2 separate regions of the Homo sapiens genome follow, and region 2 is linked to region 1. The links come from fine-mapping of genetic effects on gene expression. Tissue or cell type: aorta. Region 1 holds a variant in brackets; the other region holds the start of a gene. All regions are shown on one strand. Distances are from middle to middle.

Region 1 (8,178 bases):
TAATAAATAAAATGGCTTGATAATAGTACATACTTGTTTGTGTGAGAATAAAATGAACTGATACACAGAAAGCCTCAGAACAGTACCTGGCAAGTAGTAAATGCTCAGAACTACATGTGACTATTAGCAGGACAGCGATAAAGATGGAAAGGAGTGTAGTGTTTTCTTTCTATTTATTTATTTATTTATTTATTTTTGAGACGGAGTCTCGCTCTGTCGCCCAGGCTGGAGTGCAGTGGCACAATCTCAGCTCACTGCAATCTCCGCCTCCTGGGTTCAAGCAGTTCTCCTGCCTCAGCCTCCCAAGTAGCTGGGATTACAGGCACCTGCCACCATGCCTGGCTAATTTTTTTTTTTTGTATTTGAGATGGGGGTTTCACCGTGTTGGCCAGGCTGGTCTCGAACCCCTGACCTCAAGTGTGCTCCTACCTCGACCTCCCAAAGTGCTGGGAATACAGGCGTGAGCCACTGAGTCTGGCCTGTGTTCAGCAATATTTGAGCCATTTTTCCTTACAGAAAGAGAAATACTTATTTTTGTGTTTTAAATAAAACTGGTGTAGGAAAGTTAAAAAAAAAAAAAAAGAACTCTATTTCTCCCCTTACAGCTGCACAGGAGGGGACATCCACATATCTTTTCTCATTAATTTGATAAATATTTATTGAGCATGTACTATGTGCCATATATTGTACTAGGTTCTGGGGATGGAAGAGTAAAGGAGAAATTTGAAAATGGCATTTCAGGAGGGAGGTGGAAAGGCAGCTCCTCTGAGGCGTGGCTCCTGGCAGTGGAACTGCTATTCTTCCTCCCTGGGGGCCCAGGAAGTCTCATCTTGGTGTGGAGCTGAGTCGTGACCACCAGCCCTATCTCCCATTTCGGAGCGATTTCCTCCTCTTTCCTTCCAAAGATAGCAGAGTAAGCACAGCAGACCGAGCCTTCTGATTTGCTGCCCCTGCAAAGCGGCCTCATAGACCACCACAGTGCGATGGACTCAGGCTAACCACAGCTCTCTGTCACCTCAAGGGTCCTAGTCCTACAATGAGCAGGTTCACTTCCTCTACCTTCCCCTGGACTGGGGCTGGGCTCGCCACTTTTAGATGGTCAACCCTGCAGCACCCAGCGCAGAATACATCGAAGGCCACTTTAGAGACACCTGAGAATTCAACCTAGATTTTTGATTTTTTATTTTTTTGAGACAGGGTCTTGCTCTGTTGCCCAGGCTGGAGTGCAGTGGTGCAATCTTGGCTCACTCCAGCCTCCACCTCCCAGGTTCAAGTGATTCTCATGCCTCAGCCTCCTGAGCAGCTGGGACTACAGATGTGTGCCACCACGCCCGGCTAATTTTTGTATTTTTTGTAGAGATGGAGGTTTCACCATGTTGGCCAGGCTGGTCTCGAACTCCTGGCCTCCAGTGATCCTCCCGCCTTGGCCTCCCAAAGTGAAAAAGACATTTTAAAGTTTGACCTCTGGAATGCCTTATGCTACAGCCTAAGAGAACAGCAGGTGAGTGCAGCTCAATCTTATCAGCCAAAGTGGAGGAAGGATGAATTAAATTGTACTCAATAGCAGTGAAATTACGGGTATTTAATCATTTTCCTCCTCCAGGAGTGAGGCAGAAACAGGCACTGCCACATCCAGGCTGTGTGGTCTTGGGCCAGTGTCTTCAGCATCCTGAGCTGTTACTCATCCTGACATCAGAGCTGGCAGCGAATCCTGGAGGCAGCTTTGTGTGGTGGGGAAGGCTCACTGGGAGGTAGCGTGGGTGTAACCGGTTCCTCATCATAATCTCTGTCAAGTGAAAAAACATGGGGATAATCTAGAACAGTGGAAAACCCTATCCCAGACCCTTAGAGAGTCAGGAAACCATTTTAAGGTGACCTGACCAGCATTTAAAAATAGGAATAGGCCGGGCCTGGTGGCTCATGCCTGTAATCACAGCACCTTGGGGGGCTGAGGCAGGCGGATCACCTGAGGACAGGAGTTCGAGACCAGCCTGGCCAACATGGTGAAACCCCGTCTTTACTAAAAATGCAAAAATTAGCTGGGCATGATGGCGGGAGCCTGTAATCCCAGCTACTCAGGAGGCTGAGGGAGGCTGAGGCAGGAGGATTGCTTGAACCTGGGGGACAGAGGTTGCAGTGAGCCGAGATCATGCCTGGGTGATAGAGTGACACTCTGTCTCAAAAAAAAAAAAGGAATAGAGTGGAATATAAAGCATCGTGTAATACAGGGCCGTGTAATACAGGGTGGTATTTTTAAAACTAAAATTTTCTTTTTTTTGAGACGGAGTCTCGCCCTGTCACCCAGGCTGGAGTGCAGTGGCGCGATCTCGGCTCACTGTAACCTCTGCCTCCCGGGTTAAAGTAGTTCTTTGCCTCAGCCTCCCTAGTAGCTGGGATTACAGGTGCCCGCCACCATACCTAGCAAATTTTTTTTTTTTTTTTTTTTTAAGTAGAGATGGGGTTTCACCATCTTGGCCAGACTGGTCTGGGACTCCTGACCTGGTGATCCACCCACCTCGGCCTCCCAAAGTGCTGGGATTACAGGCATGAGCCACTGCAGCCGGCCTAAATTTTGTTTTTAATTGTACATATTTATAGGATGCGGCGTGATGTTTTGATACATATATAAATTGTGCAGTGATCAAATCAAGGTTATTAGCAAATCCATCATCCCAGATGCTTGCCATTTCTTTGCGGTGAAACATGCAAAATGTTCTAGCTATTTTGAAGTATACAATCCATTGTTGTTGGCTATAGAGGGTGGTATTCTTTTGTAAAAGTATGCTGATGCGGCCAGGCACGGTGGCTCATGCCTGCAATCCCAGCACTTTGGGAGGCCGAGGCGGGCAGATCACTTGAGGCCAGGAATTCGAGACCAGCCTGGCTAACATTGTAAAACCCCATCTCTACTAAAAATAAAAAATTAGCCAGGCGCGGTGACGGGCGCCTGTAATCTCAGCTACTCAGGAGGCTGAGGCAGGAGAATCGCTTGAACCCTGGAAGTGGAGTTTGCAGTGAGCCGAGATCGTGCCACTGCATTCCAACCTGGGCAACAGAGCAAGACCTTGTCTCAAAAAAAAAAAAAAAAAAATGCTGACGCAAAATGATTTCTTACTGTGCGTCAGAATTTTGGAAGCCACTGGTAGACAGTCCTTAGTTTCACACAATGATTTTCAGACAACTGCCCATTCGCCAATTCCAACCACCTCGGCCCACTGCCCAAATCCAACGTTTCTGGTCTCCGGGCGGCGCTGCCTTAGCAGGATCCGCCGCCAGGTGGCGCGCTCCCCCCGCCCGGAGTGGGTTTTGTTCCATCCCGGACTTAGATCTTCCAAGACGGCGATTTCCTTCTGGTCGGGTCTCTTCCCGAGGATCCGCTTTACTCGTACTAGAAACTCTGACCTCGAATGCAGTTCCAGAAGCAGAACCCTGTAGGGGGTTTCAGGCGGCCAAGAAGGGAAGTGGTTCTCCTAAGACCGTCCCGGCTTCAGTCCACGGCGCTCACTAAATGCCTCCCACGCCAGACGAGGTCCCCCGTCCCCGGAGCTCGCGTCCCAGAGGTGAGGACACACACGAACCCTCCTGCCCGAATTCGCGACCCCGTCAGTGCAGGGAGGCTCTGGCCTGGGGCTGAAGAGCCGAGTCTCTGGTGCCTGACAGCACGGGGTCGAGCCCCTCCCGGCCACCTGCTGGCTGTGTGATCTTGGGCATCGTGCTTGGCCTCGCTGTGCCTCAGTTCCCCCCACTGTAAAATGGTAGTGATAACAGCAGCCACTTCATAG[C/G]GTTGCAGGCGTTGCATGAGTTAATAGGTGCAAAGCGCTCAGAAGGGGGCCTGGCGTATGTTTGCCAAAACGATTGTTGAAAATTCTCAGTTTACATCTGTGAGAATTGAGGACCAGTTGGGGGTAGAGGGTGGGGAATCCCCAAAGTCGGCTAAGTTCAGCCTCAGCGACTGGAGGCGGGAGGGGTGTTCCCTCAGCTACAGATGTTTCCCCCCTCCCGCCCCGGCCCCCTCCACCCCCGGTTGAATCCAGGGATTCTGATTTCAGCCATGGTCCTTTTCCTCCGCACAGCGCTCCCTGGGGGTGGGAGTGGACCCAGGCCCCTTGGCAAGGTCTGGGACTGTCCTGGCATAGCAGCCTCCCCTCCTCCTCTTCATTCCTTCCAGGATGGGGAGGGCCATGAGTCACCCAGATTCTAGGATAAAGCAGCAGATTGCTGGGAAACGCAGGCAGCAGGGGTCCGGGAGAAAGGGCCAAGCTTGAGCCCCCTCAGCCACAGTGGGGGTCCCTGACCTGCAGGTCTTCCCCAAACACTGAAAGCTGAACTTAACAGTGCTGGGGCCATGCAGAATGCGCGCCTAGGAGGACCTCTGCTCTTACCAGTGGCGTTTCTCTTTTCTTTTCCTTTTTTTTTGGAGACGAAATCTCGCTCCGTCGCCCAGACGGGAGTGCAGTGGCGCAGTCTCAGCTCACTGCAACCGCTGCCTCCCTTGTTCAAGTGATTCTCCTGCCTCAGCCTCCCAAGTAGCTGGGATTACAGATGTCTGCACCATGCCTGGCTAAGTTTTGTATTTTTAGTAGAGATGGGGTTTCGCCATGTTGGCCAGGCTGGTCCCGAACTCCTGACCTCAAGTGATCCACCCACCCCGGCCTCCCAAAGTGCTGGGATTACAGGCATGAGCCACCGCGCCCGGCCTATTTTTTTTTTTTTTGAGACAGAGTCTCACTCTGTCTGTTGCCCAGGCTGGAGTGCAGTGGCACGATCTCGGCTCACTGCAACCTCCGCCTCTTGGGCTCAAATAATTCTCCTGCCTCAGCCTCCTGAGTAGCTGGGACTACAGGTGCATGCCACCATGCCTGACTAATTTTTGTATTTTTAGTAGAGACGGGGTTTCACCACATTGGCCAGGCTGGTCTTGAACCCTGACCTCAAGTGATCCACCTGCCTCGGCCTCCCAAAGTGCTGGGATTACAGGCGTGAGCCACCACGCCCGGCCAAGAATGACTTTCATAAAATGCTCATTGGGAGGGCTTTGCAAAATTGGTGTTAGCAGCATGTTTATAATCTCTAAAGTGAGATACAGATCCAGGGTCTCTGGAATGAATATAACTAAGAAAGAATGAATGCCACCTGCACCCTACCTGCTTAGCTTTTCTTTTCCTGAAAGAAGCAAGGCACAAAGAAATATTCTATGCCATGCCATCATACGCAGCATAAACATCATCGAAACTAGAAAACAGGGTATTTGGGGATTTCTGCATAGCTGCAAACATAAAGATGAGCGAGGGGGGCGAATGATACAAAATGAACCATGGCGGTTTCCTCTTGGGGCTGGAGATGTCGTCTGTGAGGCACAGACGTGAATTGCCTGGTGTTTAATGATGAGCTGTTTACGGGCTTGGATGGTGGGTATAAGGGTGATCACTTTATTAACTTTGAAATGTCGTGGTGGCAGGTGCCTGTAATCTCAGCTACTCAGGAGGCTGAGGCAGGAGAATCACTTGAACCTGGGAGGCAGAGGTTGCAGTAAGCGGAGATCACGCCACTGCACTCCAGCTTGGGCAACAAGAACAAAACTCCATCTCGAAAAAAAAAATGTATATGTACATTTTCATGCATTTTCAGGTAGTCATATTTCCCAACTTTTATTTTTTATTATTTTTATTTTTACTTTTTTTGAGATAAGTTTCACTCTTGTTGCCCAGGCTGGAGTGCAATGGCACAATCTCGGCTCACCGCAACCTCCGCCTCCCAGATGCAAGCAATTCTCCTGCCTCAGCCTCCTGAGTAGTTGGGATTACAGGCGTGAGCCACCACACCTGGCTAATTTTATATTTTTAGTAGAGATGGGGTTTCTCCATGTTGGTCAGGCTGGTCTCGAACTCCTCACCTCAGGCGATCCGCCCACCTTGGCCTCCCAAAGTGCTGGGGTGACAGGCATGAGCCAACATGCCCGGCCGTTTCCCAACTTTTAAAAGATTGAAAAGAGGCCGGGCACAGTGGCTTATGCCTGTAATCCCAGCACTTTGGGAGGCCAAGGCAGGCAGGTCACTTGAGGTCAGGAGTTTGAGACCAGCCTGGCCAGCGTGGTGAAATCTCGTCTCTACTAAAAATAGAAAAATTAGCTGGGCGTGGTGGTGGGTGTCTGTAATCCCAGCTACTCGGGAGGGTGAGGCAGGAGAATCACTTGAGCCCAGGAGGCAGAGGTTGCAGTAAGTCGAGATTGCCCCACTGCTCTCCAGCCTGGGTGACAGAGCAAGACTCTGTCTCAAAATAAATACATACATAAATAAAATAAAAATAAAAATAAGACATTAAATAGTGCTCATTGTGGAAAGTGAATCTATGTGCCCTTAGTAAAGAAGATGAGAAGAATGGAGGTGGCAGGGAAGTTGACAGAATAGGGCACATTAGACTGACAAAGTCATAACAAGTAACCCAAGTTGGTACCAGAAAGACCACATACTCTGACCATAATGCAGTTGAACAGTGACCAATAAGACAAAAATGGTATCATGGAGTATATGAATCCCAAGTCTAAATTGAATGAGGCTCAAAGAAGGCTTCACATTGAAAATGAGACCACGTGTATGTGAGTTATAATGAACCTGCTATATACCAACATTTATGTGGCAGAGCTGGGAGTGTGCAAAGAGGGATATCCTTCATCTTGTAGCATTTTTTTTTTTAGAAAGGAAAAACTGGAAAATCATGAACATTTACAGTGTTTCAGTCCTACTGTGCGCTCATTGTGCCTAAGTGAAAGGCTGGACCTGAAAGCTTTCTTTTTTTTTTTGAGACAGGGTGTCACTTTGTCACCCAGGGTGGAGTGCAGTGGTGCAAACACAGCTCACTGCTGCCTCAAGCTCCCAGGCTCAAGCGATCCTCCTGCCTCAGCTCCCCAGGTAGCTGGGACTACAGGCATGTGCTACCACTCCTGGTTAATTTTTGCATTTTTTTTTTTTTTTTTGTAGAGATGGGGTTTCTCCATGTTGCCCAGGCTGGTCTCAAACTCCTGGACTCAAGCAATCCCCCACCTTGGACTCCCAAAGTGCTAGGATTACAGGTGTGAGTCACTGCACCAGGCCTTGAAAGCTTTCTTATTTTTATTCCAGTTGTAGCCTCCCTTCAGGATGTGGATTCACATGCAACATGAGTGGTAAGTGTTTAAAGAGGTCTTTCCTACTTTTTTTTTTTTTTGAGACGGAGTCTCGCTCTTTCCCCCAGGCTGGAGTGCAGTGGCTCCATCTCGGCTCACTGCAAGCTCCACCTCCCAGGTTTACACCATTCTCCTACCTCAGCCTCCCAAGTAGCTGGGACTACAGGCACCTGCCACCACGCCTGGCTAATTTTTTTTGTATTTTTAGTAGAGACGGGGTATCACCGTGTTAGCCAGGATGGTCTTGATCTCCTGACCTCGTGATCCGCCCGCCTCGGCCTCCCAAAGTGCTGGGATTACAGGCATGAGCCACCGCGGCCGGCAGGTCTTTCCTACATTTTTTATTTCCGTAAGGAGTCTCTGCAGTGTGAGTTCTTGTATGAACCATGAATTTGAGACCACGCTGAAGGCTTTGTCATATTCCTTTTAGATTCGCAGTTTCTCTCCAGGGTGAGAACAAATGTCTACTCAAGATGAATGAAGATGAAAGGCTTTCTGTAGACTTTACCTTCACAGGGTTTTTTTTCACATTTCTGTAAGATACGAGAGTTCAGGGAAGATGTTCTCACTCATGCTAACCCCTTGAGCTCCCTTCCAATATGTCCTCCTCACATGTTTGGTACAGTCAGAAAATTAATGAAAAATTTTCCACCTTCCTTTCATTCACAGGGCTTCTCATCTTTGTGAGTCTTAAGATGTTTTTTAAGTCCTGACGACTTTGCAAAGTCTTTTCCACATGTCTTACATTTATAGGGTTTCTCTCCAGTGTGGCTCCTTATATGTGTATATTTTGAGGACTCCCGAATGACTTTCCCACATTCTTCACATTCGTAGGGCTTCTTCTGCACAACATGCTTTCTTAAATGTTTATTAAGGTGTAAGGAATATCTAAAGGCTTTCCCACATTTCCCACATTCATACGGTTTCTCTCCAGTGTGAATTTTCATATGTCTCATAAGGAATGACTGATAAAAAAAGGCTCTCCCACATTCGGGGCATTTATGGGTTTTCTCTCC
Region 2 (8,171 bases), 31 kb before region 1:
ATTAAATTAAAAGGATTTCCAAGAGTCAGGGACGTCTCTCCCAGCCTGGGGGTGTCCTTCCCAAACTGCTACATTCCCAAGTAAATTAAGAAGTCCCAGCCCTGAATAACGGACTGGAAACTTACCGAGAGCCGCGAAAAAAGTCAGAGCTGGAGTCGGAGTCTTGTCCCTCGCTCGGGCCTCCGTGCCCCGCCCTTCTCCTCCCTCCTTTCACCCTCCCGAGGCCCCCGCCTCTCTCACCGCCTTCCTCCCTCCCTTGCTCTCCCCTCCAATCCAGAACCCTTTCTCTCTCGCTCGCTCTCCTTCTGCGTCTCTTCTCTCCCTCCTGCCCTCACTGTCTGGGCCTCCTTCTCTCTTGCTCCCGTTTCTCTTTCTCTCCTCCTCTCAATATATACTGACCCTTTTATAAACCCACCCTCACCGCACCCAGCTGAGGTCGGCTGCCAGTGGGAGGGCCCAGGCACTCCGGTTCCTCTTTCTTTGGGCCCCCACCCAATCCCTCCAGACAGACATCATCTGGGGCTCCCTCCCAGGGTTGAGATGAGAAACTCTTGGAATGGGGTTCTTGGGGGGGGCAAGCGTCAGGGGTGGGAGGGCCCGATTCTCAGGACCCTTGAGTTTTGAGGTCTTGCCCTGGGGCCGGATGTCTGCTTTCCCTGATGGAGCTTGGAGCTGGATAGGAGTCTGGGAAAAGAGGCCAGATTTCTGTGGCATGGACTTGAGATTGGGCTGGTGAAGTTGGCCCCGTGGTGGGGGGTCAGAGGATGGGAGATGAAATTTGTGAAACTCGGCAGGGCGTTGTGGCTCACGCCTGTAATCCCAGCACTTTGGGAGGCCGAGACGGGCAGATCATCTGAGGTCAGGAGTTCGAGACCAGCCTGGCCAACATGGTGGAAACCCGTCTCTATCAAAAATACAAAAATTAGCCGGGCGTGGTGGCGGGCGACTGTAATCCCAGCTACTTGGGAGGCTGAGCCATGAGAATCGCTTGAACGCGAGAGGTGGAGGCTGCAGTGAGTTGAGTTTGCACCACTGCCTTCCAACCTGGGGGACAAAGTGAGATTCTGTCGCAAAAAAAAAACAAAACAAAACAAAAAACAAACAAACAAAAAAAAAAACCTTGTGAAACTCTGGAAGCGGGGAGGAAGCGGAAGCTAAGAATCCCAGCGCCATCATTTCCTGGTTCAGTGACCTTGAGCCAATTATTTCACCCACCTGGGCTCCAGTATCTTAGTCTATGTTGAGAGTATAATAATGCTGACAAAATACTAATACTGATAATAATAATTCTGATACTTATGCTGAATGAATAAGGTAATACTGGCACACTCACACACCTAACCTGTTCCTTCCTTCATCAAACATTTATTGAACATGTACTCTGATCTGGGAGTTAATAATGAAAACAGACATGAGCCCTGCTGGTATTATGGAGCTTGTATTCTAGTAGAGGAAGACAGACAAGAGAAAACATCAATGATGAAGATAAATCTCAGATAAGGATAAGTGACTTGAAAAATAAATACAATAGGCTGGACGTGGTGGCTCATGCCTGTAATCTCAGCACTTTGGGAGGCCAAGGCTGGAGGATCACCTGAGGTCGAGAGTTCAAGACCAGCCTGGCCAACATGGTGAAACCCTGTCTCTACTAAAAATACAAAAATTAGCCAGGCATGGTAGTGGGCGCCTGTAACCCAGCTACTCAGGAGGCTGAGACAGGAGAATTGCTTGAACCCGGGAGGCGGAGGTTGCAGTAAGCTGAAATCACGCTACTGCACTCCATCCTGGGTGACAGAGCAAGACTCCATCTTAAAGAAAAAAAAAAATAAAAGAAGAAAAGAAAAATAAATACAATAATAAATCAAACAGAGTGATGGAGATAATGACAGAGTGCAGGGAAGACTACTTGAAACAGGAAAATCAGGGAAGGCCTCTTGGAGGAGGTAACATTTGAGCTGAAGACAGGAGTCATTTGAACGCTGGGGTTGGGGAGTGGTGGGGGGGCGTCGGGGGGAGAGGAAGTGCAAAAGCTCTTAAAGCTTTTGAGAACAAGCTCAGGTTGTTTAGGGAGCAGACAGAAGGGCCAGTGTGGCTGGAGCACAGGGAGACAGAGGGAGTGGTGAGAAGGGAAATCAAAGGGTGCCCTTGAAGACTAGGGGAGGGGCTTGGATTTCATTCTAAGTGCAGTGGAAAGCCATTAGGTTTTAACAGAGTGTAGTACCAAAGATTTTTATTTTTTTTTTGAGATGGAGTCTTGCTCTGTCATCCAGGCTGGAGTGCAGTGGCATGATCTCAGCTCACTGCAACCTCCACCTCCCGGTTCAAGCGATTCTCCTGCCTCAGCCTCCTGAGTAGCTGGGATTACAGGTGCCCGCCACCACGCCCAGCCAATTTTTGTATTTTTAGTAGAGACGGGGGTTTCTCCATGTTGGCCAGGCTGGCCTCGAACTCCTGACCTCCAGTGATCTGCCTGCCTTGGCCTCCCAAAATGATGGGATTACAGGCGTAAGACACTGTGCCTGGCCCCAAAGGTTTACTGTTAACTATTATTATTAATTTTGGGGATATTAAATTAGGGTCGGGGTGATGACTACTATGTACACGAGTCTCTTGGGAGGGGACCAGGTGCCCAGAACTCTGATAAATTGAGAGCAGGGGAATTCAAATCCTGGATCCAGGGAAGGGAACTGGATGATGGGATGTCTGGGTATCTGATGGGCCAGAGCTGGGTTTGGGATAGCTGTTGGTGATTCGGGCTCCCTGAGGGGGTGAGGGATGGACAGTTCAGTGCTTGGCTGGGTACCCCAAGACCTGGAAGCTGGAATACCAGTATAGCACAGACTCTAGAGCCACACTGGTTGGACTCAAAATCCAAGCTGTTTTACTCAATGGCTGTGTAATTTTTGGCAAGTTACTAATAACTTCTCTATGCCTCAGTCTCTTCATCTGAAAAATAGAGATAATAGTAAATACATTATAGGGCAGTTCTTAGGGTAGTGCTAGTCATATCAGGCATTGGGGCTCTGAGTGGAGTCAGTACTGGGGGACCCTGATTCAGGATCTCTAGGAGTTGGGGAAGGGGCAAATTCTTGGGTCCATTGGGTCTCAAGGCTAAAGTTGGGAATCCAAAATGAGGGTCCCTGGGGGAGAATAAGTAGTCTCAAACTTAAGTGCCTGAGAGACAGAAACTGGGGTCCGCACTCAGATCCCTAAGGAAGTTGCAAAGTCTGGGTCACTGAAGGAAAAATTAGGGGCTGGGGAGACATACGTTCCTCTTGGGGAGCAGGAAAAGAGGGCTCCACTTTCTTGAGAGGACTAGGGGGAGCCAGGGGCTAGGAAGATGGAAACTTGAGCCGGGGAGGTGAAAAACACGAGTCTAGGACTCAGAATCAAGTTCCCTGAGTGGGATCGGCGCCAGGCTTGGGTACCCTGGGGATATTAGGGGGGTCCCCGCACTATGGCTATGTAGAAGGGGAAGAATCAAAGGATCTGAGGGTGGCGGCGGGATCTCCCCATCCTGGGCCTCCGAGATTATGAGCTGAGCTGAGCGTACGCAGGCCGCTTCCTCCCACAGGAAACCGCAGGCTTCGGGCACACCCAGCCTGCAGGGAGAGGCGCCCACTGCCCGCCCGCCCGGGGAGGCCCACGTGGGCAGCAGCCGCCGCCGCGGAGGGGGCGTGCCTTACAGAGCGAGTGGGTGTAACCAGAGGGGGCGTGGCCAGAAACCGGGGGGCGGTATGGAGTGCCCGAGGTCTCACCCACTTCCGCCCTCCAGCGCGCGGACGTGGTAGGCGGCCAAGCGTTTTTGGCTGCTTCCCGGGAAGCCGTTGGTCGCGCTTGCGTAGTGAACCGCTGAGGCTGTGTTGAGCGCTCCTTCTCCGCGCAACTCCCGGCTTCGACACCGCCTTCCTTCCTATGAATCCTTAATTTAACGTGGTCACAGTCAGCTTAAGACCGGCACCTCTCGGGCTCCGTCTTGTAGGACCTCGGCCTGGCTTCGAGGGCTTCCATACAGGTCACCGCAGGCTCTTTCAACTCCCGCCGCTTCCAGGCCCGCGGTACTAGTGAGACCTCAGCCTCGACCTCCCCAGGACCATTTCGACCTCCCGCAGGCCTTCAAGGCCTGAGCGCCTCCCGATTAGCCCGCCCTTCACCGCCCTTCCACCGGGCCCCTCGTAAGGCCTTCCAAACGCGACCCTCGAAGCCCGCCCCTTACGGGGAAGCCCCTCCGCTCGCTGTCTGCGAAGCCCCGTCCTGTACTGGTGTCCGTGCCCCTCCCCTCGCCGGCCCCGAAGCCCCGCCCCTCGAAGTTCTTCCCACTCACTCTCCTCACAGGTCTCAGCCCCGCCCATCACAGCTCCCTACGGCACGCCCCTCTCAGGCCTCACAGCCGTGCACCTCTCAGGGCTCCGCAGCACCGCTCCACAGGCCCTCCCGGCTCCGCCCCTTTCAGGACCTCGCCGCCCATCAGTTTTGTTTGTTTGTTTGTTTGTTTTTTGAGACGGAGTCTCGCTCTGTCGCCCAGGCTGGAGTGCAGTGGCGGGATCTCGGCTCACTGCAACCTCCGCCTCCCGGGTTCAAGCGATTCTCCTGCCCCAGCCTCCTGAGTAGCTGGGATTACAGGCACGAGCCGCCATGTCCGGCTAATTTTTTGTACTTTTAGTAGAGACGGGGTTTCACCATGTTGGCCAGGTTGGTCTCGAACTCGTGACCTCAAGTGATGCGCCCGCCTCGGCCTCCCAAAATGCTGGGATTGCAGGCGTGAGCCACCGCGCCTGGCCTTGCCCATCAGTTCTCAGTCCGTGGGAACCCTGCAGGTCTACGCCTCGCATCCTTCTCCGCCCCTCCTCCCATAGTTTCTCCCGCGGCCTCAGTCCCTCCCTGGCCGCTGTCCTCAGTCCTCATTGGTCCCTTATCTCCCCAGTAACCAGACCACAACACTGAACTTGGAGCACCAAGAACAGGTCAGGCCCGTCGGCAGGTAGGGCCCAGGACTCCCCCGACCCTGCCCAACCCCCACTACAGCAGGCCGGGGTTTCCCCCTCTCCTGCGACCAAACAGCCTGGCCTCAGATATCCTGAGAGCCCAGGAGGCCTGTCCCCTGCCAAACCCGCGCCAGAATCGGAGCCTAGACGCAAGACCCAGAGTGTGAGAGGTGGGAGGGCTGGAGAGGTGTGGGAGAGGCCTGAGAGAGGTCCCCCTCCAACCCCTCTTGGAGGAATGAGGCCAGCGTGGTTCTAGGGTCACCCCCTTTCAATTCCCAGTCCCTCGCAGTTCATTGTCCACCCTCTCTGGGCCCTGGCCCGCCTGCTGTCTGAAGGGTCTTATATGTCCATCCCTACAGGAGCCCCACCCTGTTTGGCCAGGATGCCTTTGGGACGCTTGGCAGGGAGCGCCCGCTCCGAGGAGGGAAGCGAGGCATTTCTGGAGGGAATGGGTAATTCATTCATTCTTTATATCATTCACCCATTCTTTTCCAGCCCCCAGCTTTCCCAAGTTCCAGGTCCTGTAGGGAGGGAGGGAGAGTGTCTGTCCAGGAGCGCCCTCTGGTGGGAACAGACATGCGCCCTAAGGGAGGCGGGGCGGGCACCACGGTGGGTGGGCCAAGCCTGGGCAGTGGGGCAGGCTGGAGACTTCAGGCAGCAGAAGTTTGAGTGGGGCCCAGAACTCCCTGTAGGAATTGCCAAGGGGAGAAGGAAGGAAGGGTGTTTCTACAGAGATGACAGAATGTGGCTAGAGTAGGCTTTCTCAACCTTGGTACTGTTGACTCTTGGGGTGGGATAATTCTTTGTTGTGGGGGCAGTCCTGTGTGTCGTAGGATGCCAAGCAGTGTCCATGGCTTCTACTCACTGGATACCAGTAGCCCCCTCCCTTCTCCACAAGTCATGACAATGACAAATGTCTCTAGGCTGAGCATGCTGGCTCATGCCTGTAATCCCAGCACTTTGGGAAGCTGAGGAAGGAGGATCACTTGAGCCCAGGAGTTCAAGACCAGCCTGAGCAACACAGTGAGACCTCATCTCTACAAAAATAAAATAAAATTAGCCAGGTGTGATGGCGTGCACCCATAATCCCAGCTACTCGGGAGGCTGAGGTGGGCGGATCACTTGAGCCTGCGAGGTGGAGGCTGCAGTGAGCTGAGATTGTGCCACTGCGCTAGAGCCTGGGGGACAGAGCGAGACCCTGTCTAGAAAAAAATAAGTCTCCAGACATTGCCAAATGTTTTTGGAAGGCAGAATCACCCGCTGATTGAAAACTACTGGGCCTTTGGAGATGGGGAGCATACGGGCAAGACTGGAGAGGTGGGTAAGGTCAGGTCACTTGGGGTCTGGGATCCCAGGCTGAGGTGCTGAGACTTTGTCCTGCAGGTACTGGGGCATCATGGGAGGCCTATGAGGGGTAGGGTCTGCTGTGGGTGGGGTAGGGTTGGCTGTGGGTGTAGAGAGACCCTCTGGGACTGTGCAGGAAGGCTGGAAGTTGAGAGAAAGGTTGGGGTGATGGTCCAGGTAGGAGAGGATGAGGCTGAGCCCAGGGGATGGGTTGAGAGAGGGAGGAGGCAAGAGGATGGGGCTGAGGGCTGCTGATGGTGGGGCAGAAAAGGAGGGAGGGAGCAAGAGCCTTCCCAATTCCAGGTGGTGTGCCCAGGTCCCAGAAGACCCAGAGGCCTTCCAGAAGTGCCCTCTGGTGGGATGGGAGTGGGTTTTAGGGGAAAAAAACCCTGAGTTCAGTTTTGGGTATGAAGGGATGAGGAAGCTCGAGGGATCCCGGAACTGAGGTGCATTCCTAGAGGGGTGTTGGGGGCTGGATCTGCAGTTCAGTTGCAGTTTGTGAGACCCCAAAGGGAGCAGAATTCCTAGGTCCTGGGTTGGGAGGAGCTGGTGGCCAGGATCCCTGCTGAGTCCCTTGGCTGGCCCTGTTCTCAGTGGATTGGGAGCTGAGTAGGCTGCAGCGACAATGCAAAGTGATGGAAGGGGAGAGGCGGGCCTACAGCAAGGAAGTCCACCAGCGCATCAACAAGCAACTGTGAGCTGGGCGCCTGGGCCCTGAGCTGGGGAGGAGGGGGTCAGAGGGGCTGAAGACTGGACTCCTGGGTCCTGCCTTTAGTGATGCTGAGTTCTGCCCCCTTACTGGCCCCTCTTCCACCTCCCTGCCTGGGTAGTGAGGAGATCCGGCGCTTGGAGGAGGTACGGGGCGATCTCCAGGTGCAGATCAGCGCAGCCCAGAACCAGGTCAAGCGGCTTCGGGACAGTCAGCGGCTGGAGAACATGGACCGCCTGCTGAAGGGCCGGGCCCAGGTGCAGGCGGAGATCGAGGAGCTGCAGGAGCAGACCAGGGCCCTGGACAAGCAGGTGGGGTTTGAGAGGTGGTTCTACGGATCCTGCTTACGGGCAAGTGTTGTAACCTCCCTGAGCCTTAGCTTCCTCATGTGAAATTGGGGCTATTAGGCCGGGCACAGTGGCTCATGCCTGTAATCCCAGCACATTGGGAGGCTGAGGCGGGCAGATCACTTGAGGTCAGGAGTTCAAGACCAGCCTGGCCAACGTGGTGAAACCCCATCTCTACAAAAAATACAAAAATTAGCCAGGCATGGTGGCACATGCCTGTAATCCCAGCTACTCGAGAGGCTGAAGCAGGAGAATAGTTTTTCTTTTGTTTTGTTTTTGAGACGGAGTCTTGCTCTGTCGCCCAGGCTGGAGTGCATTGGCACAATCTCGGCTCACTGCAAGCTTCGCCTCCCAGGTTCATGCTATTCTCCTGCCTCAGCTTCCCGAGTAGCTGGGACTACAGGTGCCCACCACCAGGCCTGGCTACTTTTTTTGTATTTTTAGTAGAGACAGGATTTTACTGTGTTAGCCAAGATGGTCTTGATCTCCTGACCTTGTGATCCGCCCACCTCGGCCTCCCAAAGTGCTGAGATTACAGGCGTGAGCCACTGTGCTCGGCCAGGAGAATCGTTTAAACCCGGGGGGCAGAGGTTTCAGTGAGCCAAGATCGCGCCGCTGCACTCCAGCCTGGTTGACAGAGCAAGACTCTGTCTCAAAAAAAAAAAAAAATCGGGGCTATTGAAAGCATCCATCTGGTAGAGTTGTGTTCAGTGGAAACATAGATGTTTGCTGCTTTAGCACAGTCCCAGGCATTCAAAAACAGGACTGGTGTGGTTAAGCAGGAAA

Evidence for each region. PIP is the estimated chance that this variant, and not a neighbour inherited with it, causes the effect.
Region 2: it holds the start of ODAD1, and the variant in region 1 is fine-mapped to the expression of ODAD1 in aorta (GTEx, PIP 0.90).

What each region holds. Positions count from the first base shown.
Region 1 is chr19:48,286,522-48,294,699 of GRCh38, reverse strand. ZNF114 (zinc finger protein 114) reads right to left here. Exons shown (of 6, transcript NM_153608.4): 6 at 7,092-8,178. The coding sequence ends at 7,822. Among named protein-coding and RNA genes, the nearest start is that of ZNF114-AS1, 19 kb to the right of the region's middle. RefSeq lists enhancers at 2,678-3,326, 3,444-3,493, 3,514-3,563. The variant C/G (reference allele first, on the strand shown) is at 3,783.
Region 2 is chr19:48,317,565-48,325,735 of GRCh38, reverse strand. It overlaps ODAD1 (outer dynein arm docking complex subunit 1), which reads left to right and starts at 3,765. Exons shown (of 16, transcript NM_001364171.2): 1 at 3,765-4,058; 2 at 4,925-4,964; 3 at 5,345-5,437; 4 at 6,924-7,023; 5 at 7,160-7,349. The coding sequence starts at 5,368. EMP3 (epithelial membrane protein 3 (MAM blood group)) reads right to left here and starts at 184. Exons shown (of 5, transcript NM_001425.3): 1 at 126-184. LOC124904735 (a long non-coding RNA gene) reads right to left here and starts at 4,268. Exons shown (of 2, transcript XR_007067284.1): 1 at 3,759-4,268; 2 at 2,214-2,946. RefSeq lists enhancers at 311-360, 3,261-3,320, 3,331-3,390, 3,610-3,904, 3,911-4,150 and 1 more and silencers at 938-1,169, 3,501-3,790, 4,261-4,380.